Regions from separate parts of the Homo sapiens genome. Here regions 2, 3 and 4 are each linked to region 1. Evidence: fine-mapped expression QTL. A gene starts in region 1. Each other region holds a variant in brackets. All regions are shown on one strand. Distances are from middle to middle. Region 1 holds the start of ARRDC2 (arrestin domain containing 2). Region 2 overlaps KCNN1 (potassium calcium-activated channel subfamily N member 1). Region 3 has its middle 22 kb from the start of ARRDC2. Region 4 has its middle 14 kb from the start of KCNN1.

Region 1 (7,284 bases):
TGGCTGACGCCTGTAATCCCAGCACTTTGGGGAGGCCAAGATGGGAGGATCATTTGAGCCCAGGAGTTCAAGACCAGCCTGGGCAACACAGTGAGACCACATTTCTACAAAAAATACAAAAATTGGCCGGGCGTGGTAGCTCACGCATATAATCCCAGCACTTTGGGATGCCGAGGCAGGCCATCACCTGAGGTCAGGAGTTCAAGACCAGCCTGACCAACATGGTGAAACCCCGTCTCTACTAAAAATACAAAAATTAGCCACGTGTGGTGGCTAACACCTGTAATCCCAGCTACTCGGAAGGCTGAGGCAGGAGAATCGCTCTACCAGGGATGCGGAAGTTGAAGTGAGCTGAGATCGCACCATTGCACTCCAGCCTGGGTGACAAGACTGAAACTCCATCTCAAAAAGCAAAGCAAAACAAAACAAAACACAAAAATTAGCAGGATGTGGTGGCGTGTGCCTGTAGTCCCAGCTACTCAAGAGGCTGAGGCGAAAGGATTGCTTGAGCCCGGGAGGTCGAGGCTGCAGTGAGCTATGATTATGCCACTGCACTCCAGCCTGGGTGACAGAGCAAGACCCTGTCTAAAAAAACAAAAAAACAAAAAAAACCCATCTACTATGTCTGCCACCCCATCAAGGCTCCCAGGGCCCAGAGAGGCATGGGTGGTTCTCAGACCCCTGAGCTCACCTCAGAGTACAGGGGTGGCGGGCGGTAGCGGAACTCTTGGATGTAGGCGAAGAACGGGCCTTCAAGGCTCATGTCGGGGTCCTGCGGAAGCGGGAAGGGGCTCTGCCCCAAGGCTGCCTCCTCAGTGTCGGCTACCACCTCCGAGTACTCAGGAGGAGCTGGAAGCGAGAGACAGGGTGGGTGAGGTTGGCAGGAGAGAGCCCTGCTCCAAGGGACCAGGGGCCAGGAGCTGGCTTGTGCCAGCTCTGGGGCTGCCAGGCTGTATGTCCTTTGGTTGGGATTCCGGGGGACTCGTGGTGAGAGAGTTGACCCGGCATCCACCTCTCCGTGTATCCACCCACCCTCTGCATGCAAGCAGGGTGGGAGCTTACCCTCAGGCCGCTCCGGCAAGGCCCCCAGCCTCCAGTCCAGCAGGAAGCTGGCGTGGCTGCCCACGCTGGAGGAACGGCTGCCAAAAGGGTGCAAGGGAATGGTGCCGATCACCAGTGGCAGCTCCAGCAGCAGCTTGGACGTTCCTGGGATATCCACACAGACCTGGAGGAAGGAACCATAAGGGAGGGTGCCCAGGCAGCCTCCCCAACCCCCACCTCCCTCCTATGCCTGGGGAGACTGAGGCCTCAGCTTCCCCCAGTCTGAGGGAATACAGGGTGAATGTAGGCACTGTCCCCCAGGGCCAGCAGGATGCCCTACCTTGAGTGCGTAGTCCACGTGTAGAACGCGGCAGTGCAGGATGGAAGGACCCACTGGGGGGATCCGCAGTGCCCGGCCCTGCCACAGCGCCCGCTGCCCGGGGCCCACCGGCTCGCCCGCGAGGCTGGCCACCACTGCCCGTTTCTGCTTTCGGGCGCCTCGGGCCATGAACGTCTGTGTCTGCACCACGGCTGCCCGAGGCAGCACAGGACGTGTGGAGCCGTTGTCGATCTCGGCAAAGACAGGGATGACCTCTCCTGCAGCAAGGAGCAGTGGGGCCTCAGTTTCCCCTCCTGCAACCCCAACACCAGCCCCCGTCCCAACCCAGTCCGGTCCGCCTGCTACCTGGGGTGTAGCCCTTGCGGTCGATCTTGGCCGAAAGGGAGACTAGGCCACGGTTACAGTACCAGGATCGGGCAACCTTTTCCCGAGCCCCCGCTTGAGGTGCCTGTCGGTGTAGAGGAAAGTGACATGGATGAGTCACTTTGTGCAAACCACAGTCGCTGTGGAGCTTCCAAACCACCCCCAGCTGAGGGAGGACTTTGGGCAGGGCTTGGTTTCTTTTTAACAATCCAGGAACTATCCGTTAAATAGAGCCAGGAACACAACCCATCTTATAAAGCCAGAAATGAAATGTATAAGCCAAGTGTTTGGTGTGTAATTCACACTTGGTAAGCCCTAGCTCTGGTCTATTTCACAGAAGAGGCATCTGAGGCTCAGAGAGGGCTTCAAGACACTTGCCCAGAGTCACACGGCAAATGGGTGCAGATCCCAGTGGATTCCACACGCATTCCCACACCTGCCTCCCTCCCTGCCAGGGCCCACCTATGACCTCCATCTTATTGGTTGGTGTCGCCCAGCAGCCAGGCAGGCCCCTTCCTACAATACTCCCAACCTACCTCCCCAAGGGTGGCCACTCACCAGCAGGGCTGGCGTGTTGATGTCCACAGGCTCGATGACAGTGAACACCTTCCTTGCCCGGCGTGCTGGGACCCAGGGCCGGTGCAGGGTGGCCTTGATACAGTAGCGGACACTACCGTGTTTGCCCTCGAAGGATGTCACCAGGGTCCTAGGGTGGAGGGACGGGACTTCAGGGGACAAGATACAGAGACAAGCAGGCAGGGAGAAGGAGACACAGACACTCCGGGGGCCTCCCAGGGGGAGAGTCTTGGGGCTCAGAGGTGCCCAGATATCCAGTATTGGAGGTACCAATCTGGAAGGGGCTGCAGGCTTAGGGCAACCCTGCACCCCAGAGGACTTACGGGGGCAGCTGGAAGCTGAACAGGAACTCATGGCGCCCAGGAGGCAGCGTCGTGGTCTCCCCGGTATCTGCAGGTAGGAGAAAAAGGAGGCGACTGAGCGGTTGCGCTGGGGTCCCAGGGCTGACGGAGGTACCGCCGTCCAGGTGGTGGGAGGCACACAACTGGTGTTGGAGCAGGGGTCCTCCATCCGTACCTGGCGCCAGGAGCGTGGCGCGGTGGCTCACGACCTCCACGCGTTCACTGTAGCTCTGCGTGTAAGCCGTGCTCGAGCCCGCGCTGCGCGACTCGGTCCAGTGCACGTGGGCGCGGCCCCGCGCGCGCAGCCTCAGGGCACCCACACGCGCGGCGCTTGACAGCTCCAGCAGCACCCGGCCCGCCACGGCCTGGCCGCCGCTAAACACGGGCTCGACGCCCGCGGTCGCGCCGTCCAACTGCACCGAGAACGCTTTCACCTTGTCGAATAGCATCGCGTCCGGGGTGCGAACCCACGACAGGCGGAACCTGGCCTCGAACTCGCGAACCGGCAGCTCAAGATGCCGACGCTGCAGCCTCAGAACGCAAAATCGCCGTCAACGCGCAGGCGCGCTCACCAACCGGAGCAGAAAATCCCCGCGCCGTGCGTCGGCGCCGCTTTTATACGGCAGGGCGGGGGGGGGTGGGGTCACCGTCTCTTCCCCGCCCCGGGAAGGGACTCCACCAATAGCGCGACAAGGGGCGTGGCTCTGCCCAGGCGTGGAGCAAAATAACAAACGCCCCTGCTCACCGCCGGCTGCCCCCTTCCCTCGCGGACCCCGGGGAGAAACTGAAGCCCTTAGGCTGCCAGAGCTGGTCTCTCGCGGACCCCGGGGGTAAAGAGGAAAAAAAGAGGTGCAGAGGCAGGGCCCAGGCCTGAGGTCACCTAGCAGAGCCTTCAGCCTCTCGGCTTAATCACTCACCAGCCGCCCCTCGTTGACGTGACTCGAGGCATGTCCAGCCCGATTTGGGGCGGGGGACTCTCGCCCCAGTTGAGGGCCAGAGAGCCTATGACTGTTCCAGGCCTGTTTCCCCCGCTATGCAAAGGGAGAAGTGGAGGAGGTGGGTGGGACCGCCCTCCACACTGGTGCCTGCTGCACCCCTTTCCTGATTCAAGTCCCGCTTAGCTGGTGGCTCTGGGCAAATGACAACCTCTTGGAGCCTCAGTTTCCACCTCTGTAGAGCCGGGAGAAAGTAAAAATCAGTCCTGACCTCAGAAGGTTGTGCATGGATCATCGTGCAGCCCCAGCTGGACTCCTCCAAGAGCCTCGCTCCCGGGTCATCAACCTGCTCTTGACATACCGTCACTCGGTCGCGCCTCGGCGCATTCGCCCAGGAGCGGTACCTACGAAATGATGTTCCCTTCCCAATTTTCAGCCTCTGGCAAACCCTACCTTCCCCGCAGCCCTTGTGCCTGCTCCAGTCATCCTCAGCCCCCGTCCCGCCACAGAGCTGAATGCAGGGGACGCTCGGGCACCCCCAGGTCCACAGCTGCGGTGTGGCCACGGGACGGCGTGACCTCTCTCTGGGCTTCAGTTTCCCCAAAGAAAAGTCGCATGGAGTTTCTCCAGCGGGAGTTGCCTCTGCGTCGTCTGCGGGACGCTGGCGCCCTCTCGTGGCAGCGTAATGCGCTGCCGCTGAACCCATCCCCTGCCGTGACTGTCCGCCTCTGAGCCTGGCTCAGGAGACTTCCACCACCTCAGTGAGGTGTGTGGGTGGAGGGGGCGGTCATAAACAAACACGGTCACCCTCAGCCCGTGATGGGGATCGGAACAGGAACGACGGAGTTGGAGGCACAGTGATCAGCCTGGAAGGCTGCCTGGGAGGATGGGTCTTTGGAGTTGAAAGGAAGGTCTGGGACCTTAGGCCAGGTTTCAATGGATACTAGAGGGGAGACAGTAGGCCGTTAAGTCCGGGAGGAGAAGCGGGATTAGGTAACCCTGAAGGGACTACTGAGCCAGCGCCTCCCTCAATTCATTTCGCAGACGGACCCCAAAGGCCCAGAGATGGGTGGGGCTCTGCCCGAGGTCACACAGCACCTCCACTGGCCTCGCCCCTCCAGTGTCACTGTTTTTTCCTTAAATGTATAACAATTTAACAATTTTTAAGCTCCCTCTCCCTCTCCCTCTCCCCTTGGTCTCCCTCTCCCTCTCTTTCCACGGTCTCCCTCTCATGCCGAGCAGAAGCTGGACTGTGCTGCTGCCATCTCGGCTCACTGCAACCTCCCTGCCTGATTCTCCTGTCTCAGCCTGCCGAGTGCCTGCGATTGCAGGCGCGCGCCGCCACGCCTGACTGGTTTTTTTGGTGGAGAAGGGGTTTCGCTGTGTTGGCCCGGCTGGTCTCCAGCTCCTAACCTCGAGTGATCCACCAGCCTCAGCCTCCCGAGGTGCCGGGATTGCAGACAGAGTCTCGTTAACTCAGTGCTCAATGGTGCCCAGGCTGGAGTGCAGTGGCGTGATCTCGGCTCGCTACAACCTCCACCTCCCAGCCGCCTGCCTTGGCCTCCCAAAGTGCCGAGATTGCAGCCTCTGCCCGGCCGCCACCCCGTCTGGGAAGTGAGGAGCGTCTCTGCCTGACCGCCCATCGTCTGGGATGTGAGGAGCCCCTCTGCCTGGCTGCCCAGTCTGGAAAGTGAGGAGCGTCTCTGCCCGGCCGCCATCCCACCTAGGAAGTGAGGAGCGCCTCTTCCCGGCCGCCATCCCATCTACGAAGTGAGGAGCGTCTCTGCCCGGCCGCCCATCGTCTGAGATGTGGGGAGCGCCTCTGCCCCGCCGCCCCGTCTGGGATGTGAGGAGAGCCTCGGCCCGGCCGCGACCCCGTCTGGGAGGTGAGGAGCGTCTCTGCCCGGCCGCCCCGTCTGAGAAGTGAGGAGCCCCTCCGCCCGGCAGCCGCCCCGTCTGAGAAGTGAGGAGCCCCTCCGCCCGGCTGCCACCCCGTCTGGGAAGTGAGGAGCTTCTCCGCCCGGCAGCCACCCCGTCCAGGAGGGAGGTGGGGGGTCAGCCCCCGCCAAGCCAGTCGCCCCGTCTGGGAGGGAGGCGGGGGGTCAGCCCCCCACCCAGCCAGCCGCCCCATCCGGGAGGGAGGTGGGGGGGTCAGCCCCCTGCCCGGCCAGCCGCCCCGTCCGGGAGGGAGGTCGGGGGGTCAGCCCCCCACCCGGCCAGCCGCCCCGTCCGGGAGGTGAGGGGGCACCTCTGCCCGGCCGCCCCTACTGGGAAGTGAGGAGCCCCTCTGCCCGGCCACCACCCCGTCTGGGAGGTGTACCCAACAGCTCATTGAGAACGGGCCATGATGACAATGGCGGTTTTGTGGAATAGAAAGGGGGGAAAGGTGGGGAAAAGATTGAGAAATCGGATGGTTGCCGTGTCTGTGTAGAAAGAGGTAGACATGGGAGACTTTTCATTTTGTTCTGTACTAAGAAAAATTCTTCTGCTTTGTGATCCTGTTGATCGGTGACCCTACCCCCAACCCTGTGCTCTCTGAAACATGTGCTGTGTCCACTCAGGGTTAAATGGATTAAGGGTGGTGCAAGATGTGCTTTGTTAAACAGATGCTTGAAGGCAGCATGCTCGTTAAGAGTCATCACCACTCCCTAATCTCAAGTACCCAGGGACACAAACACTCTGCCTAGGAAAACCAGAGACCTTTGTTCACCTGTTTATCTGCTGACCTTCCCTCCACTATTGTCCTATGACCCTGCCAAATCCCCCTCTGCAAGAAACACCCAAGAATGATCAATTAAAAAAAAAAAATTTTTTTTAAATTTGCTTTTCTTTTTTTTTTTGAGACAGGATCTCACTCTGTTGCCCAGGCTGGAGTGCAGTGGCGCGATCTAGGTTCACTGCAACCTCTGCCTCCCTTCCACCTCAGCCTCCCGAGTAGCCGGGATTACAGGTGTGTACCACCATGCCCCGCTAATTTTTGTATTTTTTGTAAAGATGGGGTTTCACCATGTTGCCCAGGCTGGTCTTGAACTCTTGAGCTCAAGCGATCTGCCCGCCTCAGCCTCCCAAAGTGCTGGGATTACAGGTGTGAGCCACTGCACCCAGCCAAAATTTTAATTTTTTTTTTTTTTGAGACAGGGTCTCACTCTGCTCTGACACCCAGGCTGTAGTGCAGTGGCACCATCTTGGCTCACTGCAACCTCCACCTTCCGGGTTCCAGCGATTCTCCTGCCTTAGCCCCCTGAGTAGCTGGGAGAATTTAAAAATTAGCCCACCTTGGCCGGGCGCGGTGGCTCACGCCTGTAATCCCAGCACTTTGGGAGGCCGAGGCAGGCGGATCACCTGAGGTCAGGAGTTCGAGACCAGCCTGACCAACATGGAGACACCCCGTCTCTACTAAAGATACAAAATTTACCGGGTGTGGTGGCGCATGCCTGTAATCCCAGCTACTTGGGAGGCTGAGGCAGGAGAAACACTTGAACCTGGGAGGTGGAGGTTGCAGTGAGGCGAGATCATGCCATTGCACTCCAGCCTGGGCAACAAGAGTGAAATTCCGCCTAAAAAAAAAAAAAAAAAAAAGTTAGCCCGGCTAATTTTTGTATTTTTAGTAGAGACAGGGCTTCACCATGTTGGCCAGGCTGGTCTTGAACTCCTGACCTCAAGTGATCCTCCTGCCTCAGCCTCCCAA
Region 2 (7,284 bases), 20 kb after region 1:
ACCACGCCTCGCTTTATTTTTTAATTTTTACATAGAGTGGGGTCTCACTATGTTTCCCAGGCTGGTTTCCAAATCTTGGCCTCAATCAGTCTTCCCTCCTTGGCCTCCCAAAGTGCAGGGATTATAAGTGTGAGCCACCATGCCCAACCAAGCAGTCATTTGAGGAATTTAAATGTAAACCCAGACTGCAACCCAGACTCTACTAAGTAACTGATGTTGGATGTGGCTCTTGGGATTTTTAAAAAGCCCCCTGGTGACTTCAATGAGCAGCCAAGGATTTAGAGCTACTTTATTAAATAGTTCTCAGGGCAAAGAAACAACATAGGGAATCAAGCAATTTCTTTCTTCTTTTTTTTCTTTTTCTTTCTTTTTTTTTTTTTTTGAGACAGAGTCTCACTCTGTCGCCCAGGCTGGAGTGCAGCGGCGCAATCTCAGCTTACTGCGAGCTCCGCCTCCTGGGTTCATGCCATTCTCCTGCCTCAGCCTCCCGAGTAGCTGGGACTACAGGCGTCCGCCACCACGCCCGGCTAATTTTTTGTATTTTTAGTAGAGACGAGGTTTCACTGTGTTAGCCAGGATGGTCTTGATCTCCTGACCTCGTGATCCACCCACCTCGGCCTCCCAAAGTGCTGGGATTACAGGCGTGAGCCACCGCGCCCGGCCTTTTTTTTCTTTTTCTTTTCTTTCTTTTTTTTTTTTTGAGACAAGGTCTCACTTTGTAACCCAGCTGAGTGCAGTGGCGCAATCATGGCTCACTGCAGCCTTGACCCTGCAGACTCAAGTGATCCTTCCACCTCAGCCTCCCGAGTATCTGGGACCACAGAGGCACACCACCACACCCAGTTAAGTTCTTAGTTTTTGTAGAGATGGGGTCTCCCTGTATTGCCACGGATGGTGTTGAACTCCTGGACTCAAGCGATCTTCCTGCCTCCCAAAGTGCTGGGATTACAGGCATGAGCCACCGCACCTGGCCCAATTCATTTCTAGTTATCCTACATGATCCCATGGATCAGACCATGGATTTAACTATGAGCCTCCTGGCAGACAAAGCAAAAAGAGGAAATCGCTTCAAAGTCTAAAGGGTAAGAATTATCCTGGTTATTCCAGAGAATAAAATATACATCCTGCCACTTACTGAGTCGTGTCCATGATTTAGCAGACCCCATCATCTGCCTCCCTCTGAAGATCCTCCCATCCACCCAGCTCAGAAGATGCAGGCCCCAACCAACTGACCACCCGTCCCTGGCAGGGAGCCGTGAAGAGGCCACACAGAGCTGCGAGGGCTGCCTCCGCGCCATGTGGACACAGAAACGTGAGCTGGAAAGGTGCTGGACTTACTGATGGATGGCTTGGAGGAACTTACGCTGGTGTTTCCGAACCCGGGCTTGGTCTGGCTTCTTCACCAGCCTGGTATGTTTGTAGATGAGCCACGTCTCCCTGAGAACGTTAGCAGCGGCGTTTTTTACCTGGGGCCAGAAAAAGAACAATTCCTCAGGGTTGGCGCGAAATTCCAAAAGGCTCCAGAAATGTCTAGAATCTTCCAGAAACCTCTAGAAACTTCTGGAAATGCCTCTCAGGGTCCCTGGGCTATAAGGCAGGGCCATGCTTGTACAACAACATCTGTGCAGTGTGTGTATACCTAACACACATCACTCATGATGGGCCAGGCCCCTTCTATGCACCATGCAAATGTTTTTAATGTTTTTTGTTTGTTTGTTTGTTTGTTTGTTTTTTGAGGCTCTGTGGCCCAGACTGGAATGCAGTGGCATGATCTTGCCTCACTGCGACCTCCACCTCTCAGGTTCAAGTGATTCTTCTGCCTCACTCTCCCTAGTAGCTGGGATTACAGGCGCCTGCGATCACGCTCAGCTAATTTTTGTATTTTTACTAGAGATGGGGTTTCATCACGTTGGCCAGGCTGGTTTTGAACTCCTGACCTCAAGTGATCCGCCCGCCTCGGCCTCCTAAAGTGCTGGGATTACAGGCGTGAGCCACCGCGCCCGGCCATGATGCAGATGTTAACTCAGTGAATCGGCATGTGTTTTTATTTCCCTGATTTTCTATATGGGGAAGCTGAGGTACAGAGCAGTCAACCCGCTAGGGTCAGGCAGCTCTCAAATTGCATATGGCGGTCTGGCTCAAGCCTCTTACTGAATGCTCATGGCTGGACGTGACTGGGCACAAGGGTTGATGCCACGATGTCTCTCTGTGCATTACTCACAGATGGGTGCGTGGTGGCAGAGCCAAGCACAGTCCTTTTTTTTTTTTTTTTAAACGGAGTCTTGCTCTGTCACCCAGGTTCGAGTGCAGTGGTGCCATCTTGGCTTATTGCAGCCTCTGCTTCCCAGGCTCAAGCGATTCTCCTGCCTCAGACTCCCAAGTGGATGGGACTACAGGCGTCCGTCACCATGCCAGGCTAATTTTTGTATTTTTAGTAGAGATGGGATTTTGCCATGTTGGCCAGGCTGGTCTCGAACTCCTGGCCTTAGGTGATCCACCTGCCTTGGCCTCCCAAAGCCAGCACAGTCTTGACACGGGGCTGCATGGTAACCCATGGGCACATGAGCATGCCCGGCACGTACAGAGGGAAAGCAGGGAAGTTCTACGCTCGCTGACAAGGCCAGGAGGCGGCCTCCATGGGAACCGCGGTCCTCACCCGCTTGGTGAGCTGAGTGTCCATCATGAAGTTGTGCACGTGCTTCTCAGCCTTGGTGAGCTCCAGCTTCCGAGCCACCACAGCCACCACGAGCGCGGTACAGCCAGCTCCCTGTGTGCAGGGCAGAGGGGGCACATCAGCGTCCTGTCTTGAGGTCACTCCCTCCTCCAGGAAGCCTGCCCAGATTGCAGCCTCCCCATTCTCTGAGCCAGCAGTGTGAGTGGATTCCATCTGCTGAGCTCACTGACTTCAGGTCTACTCGTTTCCTATTCATCAAATGTCAGAGGGAACCATGTCCCACACATTAGCTCATTCGACCCCCAACAACTCCAGGAGGTAGGACGATTCTTTTTTTTTTTTTTTTTTTTTTTGAGATGGAGTCTCGCTCTGTCGCCCAGGCTGGAGTGCAGTGGCACAATCTCAGCTGACTGCAACCTCCACTTCCCAGGTTCAAGCGATTCTCCTGCCTCAGCCTCCTGAGTAGCTGGAACTAGAAGCGTGCACCACCACATCCCGCTAATTGTGTGTGTGTGTGTGTGTGTTTGTTTAGTAAAGGGGGGGTTTCACCATGTTGGTCAGGCTGGTCTCGAACTCCTGACAGGTGATCCACCCGCCTTGGCCTCCCAAAGTGCTGGGAGTACAGGTGTAAGCCACTGCGCCTGGCCCTGTTTTTTTTTTTTTTTTTTTTTGGTAGCGATATGGGGTCTCACTATGTTGCCCAGGCTGGTCTCGGACACCTGGCCTCAAATGATCCACCCACCTCGGCCTCCCAAAGTGCTGGGATTACAGGCATGAGCCATTACCATGCCCAGCCCCAGGCAGGTTTAGATGCCAACACCCTGAGCCTGAGCAGGGTTGGCCTAGAGCACAAGCAGGGGCTCCCGGAGGAAACCCTGTCTCGGTTTCCAGGCCAGGACAAAGGTTTTGAGAGGACCCAGAAGCCTGTTCTCAGGAAAATCCCTGTCAACTGGGACAGAGTGACTTGCTGGAAACCTCCACCTAGAATACTAGACAGCAAGGAAAAGGAATGGACAACGGCTCTGCAACAGCATGATGCACCACACAGATGCTACAGGGAGGGACCCATGCTGGGCTGCCAGCAAAAAAGCAGACACGGACCAGGTGCAGTGGCTTGCACCTGTAATCCCAGCACTTTGGGAGGCCAAGGTGGGTGGATCACCTGAGGTCAAGAGTTCGAGACCAGCCTGGTCGACATGGTGAAACCCTGTCTGTACTAAAAATACAAAAATTAGCTGGGCCTGGTGGCAGGTGCCTGCCATCCCAGCTACTCAGGAGGCTGAAGCAGGAGAATCGCTTGAACCTGGGAGGGGAAGGTTGCAGTGAGCTGAGATCACGCCACTGCATTCCAGCCTGGGCGACAGAGCGAGACTCTATCTCAAAAAAAAAAAAGAAAAAAAGGGCCAGCGTGGTGGCGTCATGCCTGTAATCCCAGCACCTTGGGAGGCTGAGGCAGGTGGATTATCTGAGGTTGGGAGTTCAAGACCAGACTGGCCAGCATGATGAAACCCTGTCTATACTAAAAATAGAAAAATTAGCCGAGCCTGGTGGCAGGCGCCTGTAATTCCAGCTACTCAGGAAGCTGAGGCAGGAGAATGGCTTGAACCCGGGAGGCGGAGGTTGCAGTGAGCTGGGATCGTGCCGTTGCACTCCAGGCTGGGCAACAGAGTGAGACTCCATCTCAATGAGGAAAAAAA[C/A]AAAGTCAGGCATGGGCCAGGTGCAGTTGCTTAGGCCTGTAACTCCAGCACCTTGGGAGGCCCAAGCAGGAGGATCACTTGAGCCCAGGAGTTCATGACCAGCCTGGGCAACATAGTGAGACCCCATCTTTATAAAAACATAAAAATAAAACATGGAAAAGCGTTTGTTGGCATGGGCATAAAACATGTCTGGAGAGAAAGAAGGCTCTGGAAAGAGGGGATGGACAGGGACCCCGATGACTGAATTAGGGAAAAGAGAAAGCAGTGAGTGTGAAAGGATGTTCACAGGCACCCACGGCAGACTTGAGAATCCTTCGGGGAGACGGGGTGCTGCCTGCGCCCACTGTCACGAAAAACTCAGGGAACACCCCGAAAGTCAGCTAAGGAAGGGAGTTTGGGCTGCAGAGGACACAGCCCAGCAGGTTTCTTTTTTCTTTTTTTTTTTTTTGAGACTTAGTTCACTCTGGTTGCCCAGGCTGGAGTGCAATGACGTGATCTCCGCTCACCACAACCTCTGCCTCCTGGGTTCAAGCAATTCTCATGCCTCAGCCTCCCTAGTAGCTGGGATTACAGGCACCCACCACCACGCCCGGCTAATTTTGTATTTTTAGTACAGACTGGGTCTCACCACGTTGGCCAGGCTGGTCTTGAACTCCTGACCTCGTGATCCACCCGCCTTGGCCTCCCAAAGTACTGGGATTACAGGTGTGAGCCACCACTCCCGGCTATTTTTGTATTTTTAGTAGAGACAGGGTTTCTCCATGTTGGTCACAGGCTGATCTCAAACTCCCAACCTCAGGTGATCTGCCCACCTTGGCCTCCCAAAGTGCTGGGATTACAGGCATGAGCCACCACGCCCGGCCCCCAGCAGGTAGTTATAGCATGTCCATGGCATTCACAGTTCTGGGATTCTCACATAAATAACCGACTTAGCCCTTGCAAAGCAGAGGAAGTAGCGCTGGTCACAGCTGAGGAAACTAAGGCACATCAGCATCAAGCCCCTTGCCCTGGATCCAAAGGCTGTGAATAAATCAGGCTGTAGAGAATAAAGGGGTGACAGTGACTCTCTGGTCAGAGTGGACCGCAGCTTCTTACTGGGCAGGCATGGTGGGAGCTGCATATCTAGGCCTGGAAGGACCGCATGGAGATGTCCCAGGAAGCCTGTGGGTGTGGCTTCCACGTGACGTCAGAGGAAAAGAGCAGAGCAGGGGAGGGGTGGACTGACAGATGGAGGGACGCTGATCAGGCACAGCTCGTGATGGGATGAGCACCCTGTCAGCAAGGGGTATGCAAGGGCTGGTGGAGCGGGCAGCTGGCTGGACCTCCCAGGATCATACACATGGACCCTCACCCTTACCATGATGCCAGTGAGCAGGCACACACCCTTCCCGCAGTAGGTGTGGGGCACCATGTCGCCGTAGCCAATGGAGAGGAAGGTGATGGAAATCAGCCACATGGCCCCCAGGAAGTTGCTGGTCACTTCCTGCTTGTCGTGGTACCTGGGGGAGCCAGAGTGGGAAGAGGGAGGGCTCAGTCTATACCATCCCCTTTGCCTCCATCACACCCCCTGGGGCAGCGCCAGGGCTGGAGGGCCCTGAGTCCACCTCGCTGCGTTGGGGCTATGTCCTGTGGGTACAGGACAGGCGCACCCTCTCCCCCGCTACAGCCCTTCCACATTCCCTTTGCCTGCCCCCCCAAGCTGCTTCCCTGGATGGGGCAGAGAGGGGCCCAGGTGAGGTTGTATGAACATACAATCCCCCTCCCAACGACAGACACACACAGACAGGGGGATGGGTGACCACAGCACCAGAAGCAGCAGGAGGTGGAGGCAAGAATTCAGGACAGACACCAGGAAGAACTTTCTCAGCCAGCAAGGCCCCAAGGAGGGAGGAGGACTGGAGGAGGTGGGAGGCTGGAGGATCACCACCTGGGGCTCGAGTGAAGAAGGGACGTCCATATAGGAAGGACATAGACTGGAGGACAGCATGAGTCCCCCAACTCAGCCTATGTTGCATCTGGGGGTTGGGAAGAGAGGGGCATCGGCTTTGGCACTGGGGAGATGCCTGGGGCTATATTTGGGACCCAGGGAGACAGGCCCCAAGACTGACAGAACTTAGTCCTGGTCACAGCCAGGCTTGGGACTTCGGCCAGAGGGGCTGCAAAGAGGTTCTGCCTGTGGCCATGCTAGCGGGCCGAGGGCTTGGCTCTCTGGGTCTGGGGGTGGCTCTAGGATCTGTTCCCACTCAGCTCTCAGTCCCCAAATCCCCTTGGCCTTTTTCTGGAGACTGGGCCCCCTCTGACCTGGCTTCCAGCTAACCCACTCCTTCCCAGGGCTTAGATCACCTGAGCCCCAAGCCAGCCTCTGGGGTGTTCAAGGTCAGAGGCCAACTGGGGTAGCACCGAGGAAGTGGCCTGGATAGAGCAGGATCTTCAGGGGAGGCCTGTGCCAGGCACAGTGGGTGACACAGCCCAAGGATAGGGCTGGGGTCAGGCTCCAGAGGGAAGGAGATGGGGGCTCCCCAAATATTGGCATTTGGGGGTCTTCACTCCCGCGGAAGTCGAATGCCACTCCAGGCACCTCCAGTCTGGGCTTCTAGGACACTTGCTGGGTAAAGGCCCAGGGACTGACCCTATCTTTTTTTTTTTTTGAGACAATATCTCTCTCTGTTGCCCAGGCTGGAGTGTAGTGGCATGATCTTGGCTCACTGCAACCTACACCTCCCGGGTTCAAGCGATTCTCCTGCTTCAGCCTCCCGAGTAGCTGGGACTACACGCGCCCGCCACCATGCCCATCTAATTTTTTTTTTTTGTATTTTTAGTAGAGACAGGGTTTCACCATGTTAGCCAGGATGGTCTCAATCTCCTGACCTGGTAATCCACCCGCCTCGGCCTCCCAAAGTGCTGGGATTACAG
Region 3 (7,284 bases), 22 kb before region 1:
CACCATGCCTGGCCTCCAATCTCACTTTTATAACAAATCCATTCCCACAATGACGAACCCACTCCAGTGATCGAATCACCTCTTAAAGGTCCCACCTCTCAACACTATTGCTTTGAGGATTTTTTTTTTCATTGTTAATTAAAACATTTATTTTGCATTTTATACAGAACAACCTGAAGTCTGCATCATGACTTGACAGTTAGCCAGGGGTTTACAGTGTGTCCAACTCAACAGTGTGGTTCTGGGACTGGGTATCCACACAAACACAGGCAGGAGTTTGGAGGAAAGATGGGGGCACAGCAGGAGCGTATCTCAATCCTTTCTCAAAGAAAAAGAAGTAGAGCATTCTGAGTTGCTGAAAACCTGTGCAAATGGGGCTTCTGAAACAAACATTGTACTGTGAGCTCTCAGGGAAAGGGAGGAAAAAGATGTTGATAAATAAGGAGGCAATTTCTTGAGGCAGGGGACGAGGAAGGAGGCTTACTATTTTTAATGCCCTCAGCCCCAGTACCTGATAATCAGAGGAGACCATGTCCAATCTTGAATCAATTCTCTGTTCAAAAAGAGGTGCTAATACCCCAGGGACAAGACTCTGAAAATATCATGCTGGTCATTCCGGAGTCCCTGTTCTATGCCCCACAGCATATTAAAAGCTGGGGGTTGGTGGGGGGTGGGGAGGTCAGAAGGTAGTGGCTTGTATTCTGTTGGAAGTAAAAAACTTAGTTCACATTAAGCACTGATAAAACCCAATGACTGGGCCCACAGATCTGTTGAGAGGTCTCTAGTAGGGACTAAGAGGGGGAGGTCCAGAACATCCTCAGCCTGAGGTGAAACAGGTGTAGAAAGTCTGGGAGGGGGGTGAGTATTAAAGTAATGGGAAACAGAACACTCCCAGACCTTAATTTTAATTGGATAGTTTAAAAAAAAAATCAAACATTGGGTGCCAGTCACAACAAATGCCATGCCTTTATGGTCACTTGGCAGTATAAAAAAATTGCCAAAGCATGTCCAGCTAACCAACAGGTCTTGCTAGGAGGTGTTTGTGTGCATGGGAAGGCCAAGGGGCTTGGTACAGCTGACTATCCAACATGATTCCTATGGAAACAGAAGGGGCAGAGTCCTGGTTTGCTGGCTTATTGAGGGCTTGGCAGAGAAGAAGCTAAAGCTCCGAAGTGACTGCAGATTCTCTGCAACCGGCTTTGAGCCATGGAAACAGGAGCCAGATTCTCACTCTAGAGATAGTGAGGGGGCCAAACCTACTCATACCACATGCATTAGTCCTGGTCATCCTCCAGGACCATGCCTGTGATGGGCAACTCATACCAGGCAGGGGAAAGGAGCTGATTAGGGAAGAAGGGACCATTTTTCATCTTTTAAAGTCTTAATTTATATTTTAACCTCAAACATATTATCAGTGCCTCAGATATAATTTAATCTTAAGTCTTTAAAGGCCCCCTGAAACAAAAGTATACTTTTTATTTAGGCTTCCTCACTTTCTGGTAGTCACTTTCCCCCAGTCTCCAGTTTTACCCTGACTTAGAGTCCACAAACTTCATCAGACCCTCTGTGCTCATGGACTTGGGCCTTTCTAGAGGGAAGCCTAAGGCTCGGCTCCAGATGAGCTGTGCCAGTACACCCAATGCTCGTGACACCCCAAACAGGACTGTGTAGTAATTCATCTCCATCATGCCATAATACTGGAGCAGCACCCCACTGTGAGCATCTACATTGGGCCAAGGATTCTTGGCCTTACCCTGCTCTAAGAGGACATTGGGCACAATCTTGCATAGCTGAGCAACCAACTTAAACATGGGGTCATTAGGCAGGTGTTTCAGAGCAAACTCTCGCTGACAGGTATATCGTGGATCAGTCTTCCTTAGTACTGCATGGCCATAGCCTGGAACAGCCCGTCCTGAGTTGAGTGTGTTCCAGATGTAGTCTCATAACTTCTCATCTGACACATCTTTGCCAACTTCCTTCTGCAGCTGTGTTAGCCAGACAAGCACTTCCTGATTTGCCAGTCCATGGAGAGGCCCTGCCAGCCCGTTCATGGCTGCTGCAAAGGACAGGTAAGGGTCTGAAAGGCCACTGCCCACCAAGTGGCTGGTATGGGCACTTACATTGCCGCCCTCATGGTCACTGTGGATAGTGAGGTACAGGTGCATGAGCTCAGGGAACTGATGATCAGTATAGCCTAACATGTTGGTGAAACTGTGAGACCAGTCCAGGTTAGAGTCAATGGCCCCAATACCACTGCCTTCTCCATAGAGATTTCGGTAGATCTTTGCTGCGACACAAGGTAGCTTTGTGATTAGATCCACAGAGTCTTCATAAATCAACTCCCAGTACTTGGTTCGGCTGATACCCCGTGCATATGCTTGGGCAAAGTTACTTTCACTGTTGAGGGCTGTAACAGCTGCACTGAGCTGAGACATGGGGTGTAGATTGGTGGGAAAGTTGTCCAGCATGGTGACCACATGGGAAGGCAGAGCTGCCCTCTTTGCCCACTCTTTTGAGAGCCAAGATACCTGTTCCTCTGTTGGGATACATCCAGTTACCAGCAGCCAAAATAAGCCCTCAGGCAGGGGTTCTTCCCCACCCTTAGCCTTGGGTAGCAGTTTCTGGCATTCAGGGATACTAAAGCCTCAGAAACGGATGCCCTCATCAGGATCAAGAACTGATGTTTCATAGACCAATCCCTTCATGCCTCTCATGCCACCATACATCATGTCCACAGTGATTTGGCCCACCACCTTCTTGCCATGTTGCTGCCTGAAGGTCTTAATTCTGGCCTGCTCCTTAGGTATGAGGTCAGCCAATATGTCTTTCAAATTCATGGAGGAAGCACTGGCATGCTGGGCTGCAAGAACAAGACAAGATGCATTCTTGGTTCCCAAGAGCCGGGCGGCCGCAGTAAGTAAAGCCATGGCGGGCGATCTCCGGGATCTGGTGGGGAGGTAAGAAGGGGAGAGAGCTGCGGCAGGAACAGGAGCCGCCGCCACTGCACCAGAGGCCGCGCCGACAGGTTGACAAGGTTGAAAGGACTGCTTTGAGGATTAAGTTTCAAACATATGAACTTTGGGGGACCATTCAAACCATAGCATCAATGAATAATTTTTTTTTAGTATAAGTATATCCCAAATGTTGCATGGGATATACTTACAGTAAAACCAAATTCAATATTGATCTGAACTTCACATTTAGCTGAGTAGCCTATATTTTATCTGGCAACCTGGCTTCACCATCATGCCCATTTTACAGATGAGGTGGCAGAGGCCCAGAAAGGTTAAGTAATGTGCCTGAGGCAGCACAGCCAGGGACAAGCAGAAGGAGAATCTAACCAGGATCATGGGTCCCACAGCCTTCAGGGG[A/T]CTCATTCCCCACCCTGGCTAGAGGTGGCCGCAGGAGAGAAGCCCAGCTTGCCAGGACCTCAGTACCCTGTAAACACCTGGAGAGGTGCCAATCCTACCCGCCATCTGGACTTGGGTATCTGGAAGTGGGGCTGACTCATCCCCTGTAAACAGCCAGTCTCCTGTCACTGTAAACAGCTGGCATCTAGAGACGCTGTCACAGTGCCCAACTCACAGTGTGACATCCATGACCCGATACTTTGCCATCAGCCTGTCACTCGATACTTAGTAAACAGTATCCTGAGAGTGGACAGTAGTTGGTGGTTACCGCGGTGCCGTGGGCCCCAAGGCAGGGTTGGACTTAAACCCAGGTTCTGACACCTGATTAGCCATCAGAGCTTGCTGTGTTCTGATACTTTGTGAAAAAAGACTAATCCTGATACTTGCTATCTGTCAATGATGAAACCCTGTTAGCCATAAACCTGTCCTCATATTTTATCAGCTGGTAACTTTAAACAAAGTTCTGATACTCTGTAAACACAAATCATGACACTTATGACCCATCAGGGGTTGGTAAACTTCAGCTTTAACCATGACCCCAAAACAGTATTCAATTTTTTTTCCGTTTTTTTTTTTTTTTTTTTTTTTGAGACAGAGTCTCACTCTGTCGCCCAGGCTGGAATGCAGCAGCGTAATCTCGGCTCACTGCAACCTCTGCCTCCCAGGTTCAAGCTAATCTCCCACCTCAGCCTCCCGAGTAGCTGGGACCACACCCAGATAATTACTGTATTTTTAGTAGAGACAGGGTTTCACCATGTTGGCCAGGCTGGTCTAGAACTCCTGGTCTCAAGTGATCCGCCTGCCCCAGCCTCCCAAAGTGCTGCTGGGATTATAGGTGTGAGCCACCGCTCCTGGCTCCTTTTTTTTTTTTTTTTTTTGAGATGGGTTTCACTCTTATCCCCCAGGCTGGAATGCAGTGCCTTCATCTCGGTTCACTGCAACCTCCACCTCCTGGGTTCAAGCGATTCTCCTGCCTCACCCTCCCGAGTAGCTGGGATTATAGGCGCCTGCCACCACGCCCAGCTAGTTTGGGTTTTTTTTTTTTTTTACTTTCTTTCTTGTATTTTCAGTGGAGACAGGGTTTCACCATGTTGGCCAGGATGGTCTCCATGACCGGCCCTGGCTCCCTCCTTTTTTTTAGAGACAAGATCTCTCTCAGTCACCCAAGCTAGAATGCAGTGGCGGGATCATAGCTCACTGCAGCTTCGAACTCCCAGGCTTAAGTGATCCTCCCACCTCAGCCTACTGAATAGCTGAGACTACAGGCATCCCAGCTAATTTTTAAAACTTTTTGTAAGGATGGAGGAGGGGGTCTCCCTATGTTGCCCAGGCTGGTCTTGAACTCCTGGCCTCAAACGGTCCTCTCACTTCAGCTTCCCCAAGCACTGGGATTACAGGCAAGAACCACCATACCTGGCCTACATTTTAAAATGACTGAAAAACTACCAGAGGAAGACTATTTGATGACATGTGAAAATTACATGAAATTCACACTTGAGTGTCCATGAACAAAGTTTTCCTGGGATACAGCCATGCTCACTTATTTGTGTATATGAATGCTTTCAAACAGCCGCAGCGTAGAGTAATTGCAAAAGAGACTGTGTAGCCGGCAAAGCTTCAAATATTTCCTATCTGGCCCTTTATAGAAAATGTTTGCCTATTCCTGATCTAAGCTCTTGGGCAGTCACTGTTCTTTATATTGAATTTAATACTCTGTTAATAGTCAATGGTCCACAGTGGTCACATGCAATGCAAACTGTGAGTCTTTTTACTCTGTAAAAGTCATATCCTAGACCGGGCATGGTGGCTCACGCCTGTAATCCCAGCACTTTGGGAGGCCAAGGTCGGGACTTTGAGACCAGCCTGATCAACATGGAGAAACCCCATCTCTATTAAAAATAAATACAAAATTAGATGGGTGTGGTGGCACATGCCTGTAATCCCAGCTACTAGGGAGGCTGAGACAGGAGAATCACTTGAACCCAGGAGGCGGAGGTTGCAGTGAGCTGAGATCGTGCCATTGCACTCCAGCCTGGGCAACAAGAGCGAAACTCCGTCTCAAAAAACAAAACAACAAACAAAAAAAGTCATATCCTAATGGGCGTGGCGGCTCATGCCTGTAATCCAACACGTTGGGAGGCAGAGTGGGGAGGAATCGTTTGAGTCCAGGAGTTCGAGACCAGGCTGGTCAACATGGTGAGACCTGTCTCTACAAAAAATTAAAAAAAAAAAAACTTAGCCAGGTGTGGTGCTGTGTGCCTGTAGTCCCAGCTACTCAGGAGACTGAGGTAGGAGGATCGCATGAGCCCAGAGGTCGAGGCTGCGTGAGCCATGACTGTACCACTGCACTCCAACTTGGGCGACAGAGTGAGACCTCATCTCTATAAAAAATAAATAAATTAGCTGAGTGTGGTAGTGTGCGTAGTCCCAGCTACTCGGGAGGCTAAGGTGGGAGGATCGCTTGAGCCCGGAGGTTGAGGCTGCAGTGAACCATGATTGCACCACTGTACTCCAGCCTGGGTGAAAGAGCCAGACACAGTCTCTTAACAACAACAATAAAAGTCGTATTCAGCCTGATGTTCTGACAAGATTAATGCAATGAACATTTGGTTTCTGACAGCAGTTAGTGTGTCCTGGGACTGTGTCAATGGTCAATACTGGGAAACATAACCAAGATGAGACCCAAAGAGTGACTGAGAATTAGACAAAGGAAAAATGATCTTGCCACACTCAGGCTGGACTGTGACTGCTGAGCTGAGGAGCTGGACTTTCTCCTGAGGGTAATAGGGAGCCACGGAGGGTGTGTGAGCAGAGGAGGGACATGCTCAACCTGGACACAGGGACGGGATTGCTTCTGACCTTGGATATCCCTTCCATGCAATGGGCTGAGGTGGCCAAAATAAAGACCTTTCCAGGCCTGGGGTCTGAAAGGAAAGGGCACTTGAAGTTGCGATGTTAGGACTTCGTGGGAGAAGCCAGTGTGCAAATAACTGAGCAGGGACTTCTGTTCCTCCCCTGCCAAGCAGGCTCCAGGGGCTGCTCACACAGTGTGATCTGGGGCCAGGAGGCTAGGGATGAGGCCAGAAGACTCCTCTTTAGGAGTCCAGGACCAGTGGGTCAAGGTCTTACTCTGAGCTTCATTAATCCATCATACACTAATTGAGCAGCTACTGAGGGAGGGCCCTTGTCTTCCACCTCCCCATTCCTGGCTCTCTGCATCTTGTGCAGGCACTCTCATTTAGCATACTGCATTTATTTTTATATTATTTATTTATTTTAGAGATAGGGTCCCATTCTGCTGGAGTGCAGTGGTGCAATCACGGCTCACTGCAGCCTCAACCTCCTGGGCTCAAACAATCCTCCCACCTCAGTCTCCCCAGTAGCTAGGACTACAGGTGTGTGCCACCATGCCTGGCTAATTTTTTTTATTTTTATTTTTAGTAGAGATGGGGCTTCACCATGTTGCTCAGGCTGGTCTCAAAGTCCTGGCCTCAAGGGATCCTCCCATCTCAGCCTCCCAAAGTGCTTTATACAGGCATGAGCCACCACACCCAGCCAGTAAATTTATTGAGCACCTACTGCATGCTATGACCCGCCCTCTTGGAGCTCCCAGTACCGAGGGGAGGTGGAAGACAGGCCGTGAACCTGTCAATACATTGTAATCACAAACTGTGAGAAAGGCAAAGCAAGGAATTGGAAGGAACTGAGAGGGAGAATAGGGCAGCTTTTGTGAAAGAGGTGAAAGGAGCCAAGCACAGTGGTTCACACCTGTAATCCTAGCACTTTGGGAGGCTGAGGTGGGTGGATCACTGGAGGTCAGGAGTTCAAGACCAGCCTGGCCAACATGTTGAAACCCCGTCTCTACTAAAAACAC
Region 4 (7,284 bases), 55 kb after region 1:
TGTATCCTCGACCTCTTGGGCTCAAGTGATCCCCCCATCTCAGCCTCCAGAGTAGCTGGGACCACACACATGCACCACCCCACTGGTTAATTTAAAAAAAAAAAAATTGTAGAGATGGGTTCTTGCTACATTGCCCAGGCTGGTCTCAAGCTCCTGAGCTCAAGTGATCCTCCTGTCTTGGCCTCCCAAAGTTCTGGGATCACAGGCATCAGCCACTGTATCCAGCACAAAACACTTAAGCTTAATTGATGCCCCATGAAATTCCACAAGGGCTGACCTGGGCTGGCCTTTGTCCTTATTGCATCCCAGCATCCAGCCTAGGGCCTGGCAGACAGTAGCTAGCTTGCTCAGTGTTTGTTGATTGACTAAATGACCACCACCTCTGTTTTCTCCACACCCCCATGGGCAGCTTAGTGCTGACCCTGGATGTCAGTCAGTGTTCACCAAGGAGGCCTGGCTCAGTGGCTCACGCCTGCAATCCCAGCACTTTGGGAGGCCAAGACAGGTGGATCACCTGAGGTCAGGAGTTCGAGACCAGCCCGGCCAACATGGGGAAACCCCATCTCTACTGAAAACACAAAAATTAGCTGTGCGTGGTGACGCATGCCTGTAATCCCAGCTACTTGGGAGGCTGAAGCAGGAGAATCGCTTGAACCCGGTGGGGTGGAGGGTGGAGGTTGCAGTGAGCCAAGATCATGCCACTGCGCTCCAGCCTGGGCGACAGAGTCAGACTCTGTCTCAAAACAAACAAACAAAACAAAACAAAACAAAACTAAAAAAAAAAAGTTCACTGGAGAAAGGAGCACAGGAGCTGCCTTCCACAGAGCTGGCCTACCCTGGGGGCTGTCTCCAGCGAGACCACGAGAGCCGGGAAGTAGAGGCTGTGTGTGGGGGGCGGGGGCGGGAGTGGTGGGACAGAGCTCTTCCAACCTGGCTCAACACCCCACTTCTAGGTCATCTGGCCTCTCTGAATAGTTTCCCCAACTCCAGTGATCAAAGAAAGTGGACAGTAACTCCCCGGAGGCTCTAGAAAGCATAGTCCTTGCTATCATCATCATGATATATATGATATAATAATAATTATATTATTATTTTTTTTCTTTCTTTCTTTTTTTTTTTTTTTTTGGAGATGGAGTTTCACTCTTGTTGCCCAGGCTGGAGTGCAATGGCACAATCTCGGCTCACTGCAACTTCCGCCTCCTGGGTTCAAGTGATTCTCCTGCCTTAGCCTCCCAAGTAGCTGGGATTACAGGCATGCAGCACCATGCCTGGCTAATTTTGTATTTTTAGTAGAGATGGGGGTTTCACCCTGTTGGCCAGGCTGGTCTCGAACTCCTGACCTCAGGTGATCTGCCTGCCTTGGCCTCCCAAAGTGCTGGGATTACAAGCGTAAGCCACCACGTCTGGCCTTTTTTCTTTTTTTTTTTTTTAATTAAAGAGATGGGGGTCTCGCTCTGTCGCCTAGGCTGGAGTGCAGTGGCCATTCACAAGCGTGATCATAGCTCACTGCAGCCTCGAACTCCTGGACTCGATACTCCCACCTTAGCCTTCCGAGTAGCTAGGACCACAGGTGCACGCCACTGTACCCAGCTTGTTATTATTTCAAAAGCTGGCACTTTTTCCTCAGGTCACCTTTTTTTTTTTTTTTTTGAAACAGAGCTTTGCTCTGTCGCCCAGGCTGGAGTGCAGTGGCGCGATCTTGGCTCACTGCAACCTCTGCCTCCCGGATTCAAGTGGTCCTCCTGCCTCAGCCTCCCAAGTAGCTAGGATTGCAGGTGCCCACCACCATCCCCGGGCAATTTTTGTATTTTTAGTAGACACGGGGTTTCGCCATGTCGGCCAAACTGGCCTCAAACTCCTGACCTCAAGTGATCCACCTGCCTCAGCCTCCCAAAGTGCTGGGATTACAGGCGTGAGCCACCTAGCCTGCCCAGTTACCAATTTTTCTATCCAACCCCTGAGCCACCCCCACCCCCAAAGGCGACCCAAGTCTGGGATTCACTCACCCTAGGGTGCAGGGGTCTCCTCGCCGAGCCACTGCAAAGGGGCTGTCCCCTTCAGTCCTGCTGGTGACCACTTGACTGGGAGAGAGGGTGGCTGCTGCTGCCTTTCCTGTCCCTTTGAGATCTGTAATGATCAGACAGGGGGTGCGGGGTGGAGGCGGGGACCCAAAAGAGTAGGGTGCAGACAGCTCCCGGACTACAGTGGTCTTTCTTATTTTTTATTTTTTTGAGACAGAGTCTTGCTCTGTCACCCAGGCTGGAGTGTAGTGATGTGATCTCAGCTCACTGCAACTGCCGCCTCCAGGGTTCAAACAATTCTCCTGCCTCAGCCTCCCAAGCATCTGGGATTACAGGTGCCTGCCACCATGCCCGGCTACTTTTTGTATTTTTAGTAGAGATGGGGTTTTGCTGTGTTGGCCAGGCTGGACTTGAACTCCTGGCCAGAGGTGATTCACCTGCTTCAGCCTATTACGTACAATGGTCTTTACAGCAGATCTGCGCTCTGGCTTGGTGTTGCTGAGCTGGGTCATCTCCTAAGCTTTCAGGAAGCTTAAGAACAGTGGCTTTATCACTCCAATGGGGCCCTGGGCTAGCCCCACCTCTTCCATGTCCCCTCCCTAAGGCCACTCCTCCTTTCACTGGGCTCCAGAAGCTAGACACTGAATGCTTTATCTGTCTTTCCCAATGCTGTTCCTGCTCACCCCCTCACATTGCCCCTAGTTCCTTCGCCATGGGGAGATCTAGGTGGGTGACATTCAGGGAGGTGACATTTTGTCACCCAGGCTGGAGTGCAGTCGCATGAACATGGCTCACTGCAGCCTTGACTTCCCGGGCTCAAGCGATCCTCCCACCTTCGGCCCCCAAGTAGCTTGGACTACAAGTGTGCACCACTACACCTGGCTAATTTTTTTAATTTTTTGTAGAGACAGGGTTTCAGTACGTTGCCCAGGCTGGTCTCGAACTCCTGAGCTTGCCTCGCCCTTCCAAAGTGTTGGGATTACAGTTGTGAACCACCTCGCTTGGCAGAGCAGCTGAACTCTTGCTCCCCAGCTCTGAAGCTGCCCTGGGAGCCTGTAGCTCCCTTGGCGTGCTCCCTCCATCTATTTAGTGCTGTCTGCAGAGGGCTTATAGAAGCACATGGTACCCAAGTCCGATCCTGGAGAAGAGGGCAGAAAAGGACACCCCATGGAGGGCAGGGGCAATGCCAGACCCCAGAACAGGACTGAAGGGGAAACCCCCAGCTGCCCTTTCTCTCACCAGGACCTGGGATCGGGGCAATGGTCACCTTGGATGGCTCAGGGGCCACCTGTTCCAGCCAGGGGGACTTGGTGCTGACCCTAGCCTTGGGAGGGCAGGGCCTTGTCCAAGGTCACTCAGCGGGTTGCTGCGTCGGAGTAAAAATTATCTCCTCCGTGGCTCCAGAAGCTTTGACTTCCCCATCTATAAGCCCCCTCCCCCCAGGGATTTCCTTTGATGAGGTCTTGGGCAGCCTGAGGAGGCTGGGAGCGGGGGCACACGGGGGACAAGAGGAGGT[G/A]AGATCTGGGAGCCCCGGAAGAGAGCGAGGCCGGGGCTTCTTGGCTCAGTCCTGTCTGGGTCTCTAGCCAGAGGAGAAACTTGGAGAAAGTAAGGAATCCCCCCAGTTCTGGGGCCCTGGCAACCCACGCTCAGGGTTAAACGGCGGCGGGGGCAGAGGATCCCAAAGCTGACCTCCCCAGCTGGGTCCCGGGATTCGTGGATCTGACCAGAAACCTGCTCTGCCCCAGCCCAGCTGGGTGACCTTGGGCGAGTGGTAACCCTCTCTGGGCCTCAGCCCCTCCTCCTGTCCGGGAGAGGGGAGGGGGGAAGGGAGGGAGCTTAGGGAAAAGAACAGGAACCCGGAGCCCAGCGCACAGTAGGCTGGCAGGTGGGGGGTTCCCTCCTACTGCGCAGCCTGGCCAGCACAGGGAATCCCCGCCACAACGCAAGGAGAAAGGGAGAAACCTGAGGGGACAGAGAGGGAGGAGGGGGCAACGGGAACCAGCGGTGCTTTCCCCCCACCACTGAGGAGGGTGCAGGCGTGGAGGATCCCCATGTCCCCACCTTCACCTCGCGGAGGGAGGGGGATGTCTGCGCTTCCCCAGACCTGGAAGCAGGAACCCCCTCCTCACAGGGCATGGGGGTGGGGTCAGGAGCTGACTCCCGGGATCGGTGTTGGAGGCGGGGGTTGAAGAAGGGATGTCCCCCTCCTCCCGCAGCTCCCCTTTGAATTCCCGGAGTCGGGCAAGCTTTGACCAATCCGCCCACCAAAGAGAAGGGGACCGCCGCCGGGACCGAACGCTCCCCGCCGTGCCCCCCACTGCCACTCACCGGCCGGAGTCGGCCGCCGCAGCCGGAGTCCCTGCGCCCTGCCCGAGCGCGAAGACAAGTGCACGGCCGGGCAAGGGCGTGTGAGCCGGGAGGGTGTGCGCGCGCCGCCGCAGAGCCGACCCCCTCCCCGCCGACCTGGGCCCCGCCCCGCCGCCCGGGGAGGGGGCGCGGACCCCGCAGGCCGAGGGAGGCAGTCCGTCGCGGCCACAGCCGGGGCCCTCCCCCCCGCAAGGCGTCTCCTCTAAAGCAGGGATGGAATCCCCCTCCAGGTCTCTCGCCAAAGCCCACTCTCCCCCCTCCACCCAGGGGCGTGACAGCAAATCTTAGAAGACGGTCAAAGAGATGGGAGGACCCTCTGCCGCCTCTGGCCCAAGGTGCTCATCTTACAGACGGGGAAACTGAGGCCCGGAGAGCGGAAGCCCCTGGCCAGGGCCCAGTGTCCCAGCAGCACGGAACAGGGCTGCTCCCCTCACTCTGGGGGGCCGCTCTCTCAGCTCCGGGAAAGAAGAGAGTCAGGGAGAGAGGAAGGCAGACAATTAAAGCCTCCCCACCACGCCACTGGGGAGGATCGGGGGACCCAGAGGCTTCGGGCAGCTGGCGACGTTGACCGGGCTGGAAGGTCCCAGCTAGGAAGGGGGAGCCTGGGTGGCCAGAACCAAACCACAGAAAACTTCTCTATTTCATTGTTGGGCTGGTGACACCCTCCCCCCAACCTGCGCGATTAGGAACCTCTTGAGCCTGACTGGCCCGGGCTTGGGTGGCAGAGTTGTGAAGGTCACTCTGCCACCTTAGAACAATGTGGCTCGCGGGGTCTGGCTCGGTAGGGGATGGGAGGGAGAAGTCCAGGGGCAAGCCCTTTCCGTGACCTCGGCCCTGCCAAGCCCCTTTCTGAGCCTCAGTTTCCCTTCAGCGAACGGACAAGTGCCCACCTCCGGGGTCCCTCCAGCTCTCCGAGTCCGTAGGGCCGCCGGATATGTCTTGCTGTTCTCCTTCAGCTGCCCCCTCCAACAGAAAGCGTGGCTCCAGCTCAGACCACCGTGTTCCTCCTCGAAGTCCCCTGCTCCGCCCCGTCTCTGAACCCCCACCCACCTTCAGCCTTGGTGGGGACCTTCAGCCACCTTCAGGCAGGGGACAGGGAGGGGGGTTCCTCTTGGAAGCAGGGAGGCTTCTACAAACCTCCATTCTGGTTTTTGTTTTTTGTTTTTTTTCCTCTCTTTTCTTCCATTCATTCTAAAAATAGCCCTCCCCCCTCCCCAGCCCCCCGGCGGGGAGCCTCTCTGGAAAGGTAACGAGCTTCCCGGGCGGGGTCTGGAGGCCGGGATTCCGTGGCGCGGGCGGGGCTCGGGGACGCCGATACTGAGAGGAGGGGAAACTGGGAGCGCACCCCCCACCCCCATTGTGTGTGAGATGCGCTCAGAGGGAGCCGCCGGTGTGACCGTGACCGTGTGGAGGGAAAAAGAACAAAGGGGAGGAGGCCTTCGGGTCTGCACTGTGGAGGCAGAGAGCCGGTGGGTTCGCAGGAGCCGAGGACAAGGGGTGCCACCCAACACCCTCCCCGGGGGGGACTTCCCGCCCCTGTTGGGGAAGGCTGCGACCCATGCTTTAGTCAGACACAGTGAAGGAGAGTCAGGCTGCAGAAGTGACAAGGACACCCATGATCAGGGGATTCCCCCACGCCCCGTGGACCCCACAATCGCCCAGTGGAGCCCGAAAATCCTCCCCACTCCCGCGGCTCCTCCTGTCCCCGCCACAGTCCTTCTCCCTGACGCAGCCACAGACTTCAGTCCTCACCCGTGTGACAGGTCACGTCCCTGTCCCGCATGACCGCCCTCCCCCCACCTCCCTTCTCTTCTTGAACCAAGAGGAGCACCCTGACTCCTCACAGGCCGACGCGGTCTGCCCCCCACAACGCCCACCCTTTGTTCCAATCCCTCCGCGGTCTCCCTGGACCGCCCACCACATTCTGGACACGCCCAGCTTCTCCCCCTAACCGGTTCAGCCTCAGAGCCTTTGCATCTGCGGTTTCTTGGGCCGGGATCGCCCTTCCCTGGCTCTCCTCACCCCCTGTTCCCACAGGGCTCTTCAGGGCTCCATCCAAGGTCGCCTCTTCCCTAGAGTCGCCCCTTCTCTGGGCACGTCGCCCTGGTTTACTGTTCTCACTGCCCTCAAGCCCTGGTGTGAACTTGCTTGCTCTTTCATCTTCTCCTCTCTCCGCCCCTGGGAATGAGGGGCCAGGTGCAACTTGGTCCTAGCTGATGGGAGGAGAGGGCCGCTCCCGACCCAGCACCACCCCAGGAGCTACCTAGCTCCAAATAAAGGGACAGCACCACCCTTTGCCCAGCTAGCCGCCCTAGAAATGCCTCCAAGACACGGCACAGCAGATCCACAGCCGTCTTCTGCAGGGGGGTCACCTAGGCCAGCGAAACTAAAAACACAGGAGCCGACGTGTCCCCAACCCGGGACCGCTTAGCCCGTTTCCGGAATAATATGCCCCTGGGGAAAATGATCCGCAGGGACCGAGCTCCTGGCCGGTTGAGCAGAAGCCAGGCCGGAGGCGCAAATGTTCCACCGTTCCGATGGCGAATAAGTAAAAGAAGCGAACGTGGCAAGTTGGGGAAGTGTTGGGGGAGACGCTGGGGGCAGCCCAGGGCCAGGGACCCCTGGGGGGCTGACCTTTCCCCCCTTTGATTGTGTTTTGATAACAAAACAAAGTGTTTTGTTATCTTACACTTTTTGAAACCAAAGGGAAGGATAAAAGGGAAATTGCTTTGTTGGAGGGGACAAAGGCCCAGAGAGGGTATATGTCCCCATGGGATGAGGACGCAGTTGTCCGTGTCGAGAAATGCAACACTCCCTCACCTGCACTTGCCTCCCTAAAATCACCCTCAAATGTTTTTTTTCATGAGCACCTACTACGTGCCTGTGTGCTTTTGTG

What was found. PIP is the estimated chance that this variant, and not a neighbour inherited with it, causes the effect.
Region 2: its variant is the best candidate, but not a certain one, in a credible set for the expression of ARRDC2 in whole blood (INTERVAL, PIP 0.66).
Region 3: its variant is the best candidate, but not a certain one, in a credible set for the expression of ARRDC2 in thyroid (GTEx, PIP 0.56).
Region 4: its variant is the best candidate, but not a certain one, in a credible set for the expression of ARRDC2 in whole blood (TOPMed, PIP 0.52).

The regions. Positions count from the first base shown.
Region 1 is chr19:18,004,137-18,011,420 of GRCh38, reverse strand. ARRDC2 (arrestin domain containing 2) reads right to left here and starts at 3,251. Exons shown (of 8, transcript NM_015683.2): 1 at 2,837-3,251; 2 at 2,644-2,710; 3 at 2,303-2,450; 4 at 1,727-1,829; 5 at 1,382-1,638; 6 at 1,063-1,225; 7 at 692-849. The coding sequence starts at 3,110. RefSeq lists an enhancer at 2,978-3,197.
Region 2 is chr19:17,983,898-17,991,181 of GRCh38, reverse strand. It overlaps KCNN1 (potassium calcium-activated channel subfamily N member 1), which reads right to left. Exons shown (of 10, transcript NM_001386974.1): 5 at 5,729-5,870; 6 at 2,657-2,767; 7 at 1,339-1,466. Among named protein-coding and RNA genes, the nearest start is that of KCNN1, 20 kb to the right of the region's middle. RefSeq lists enhancers at 2,153-2,652, 2,653-3,154, 6,121-6,802. The variant C/A (reference allele first, on the strand shown) is at 4,372.
Region 3 is chr19:18,026,272-18,033,555 of GRCh38, reverse strand. It overlaps the pseudogene CSP3. Among named protein-coding and RNA genes, the nearest start is that of ARRDC2, 22 kb to the right of the region's middle. The variant A/T (reference allele first, on the strand shown) is at 3,372.
Region 4 is chr19:17,949,404-17,956,687 of GRCh38, reverse strand. It overlaps a transcript of KCNN1 not described here. Among named protein-coding and RNA genes, the nearest start is that of KCNN1, 14 kb to the left of the region's middle. RefSeq lists enhancers at 3,627-4,244, 4,245-4,862, 4,863-5,481 and a silencer at 4,432-4,481. The variant G/A (reference allele first, on the strand shown) is at 3,538.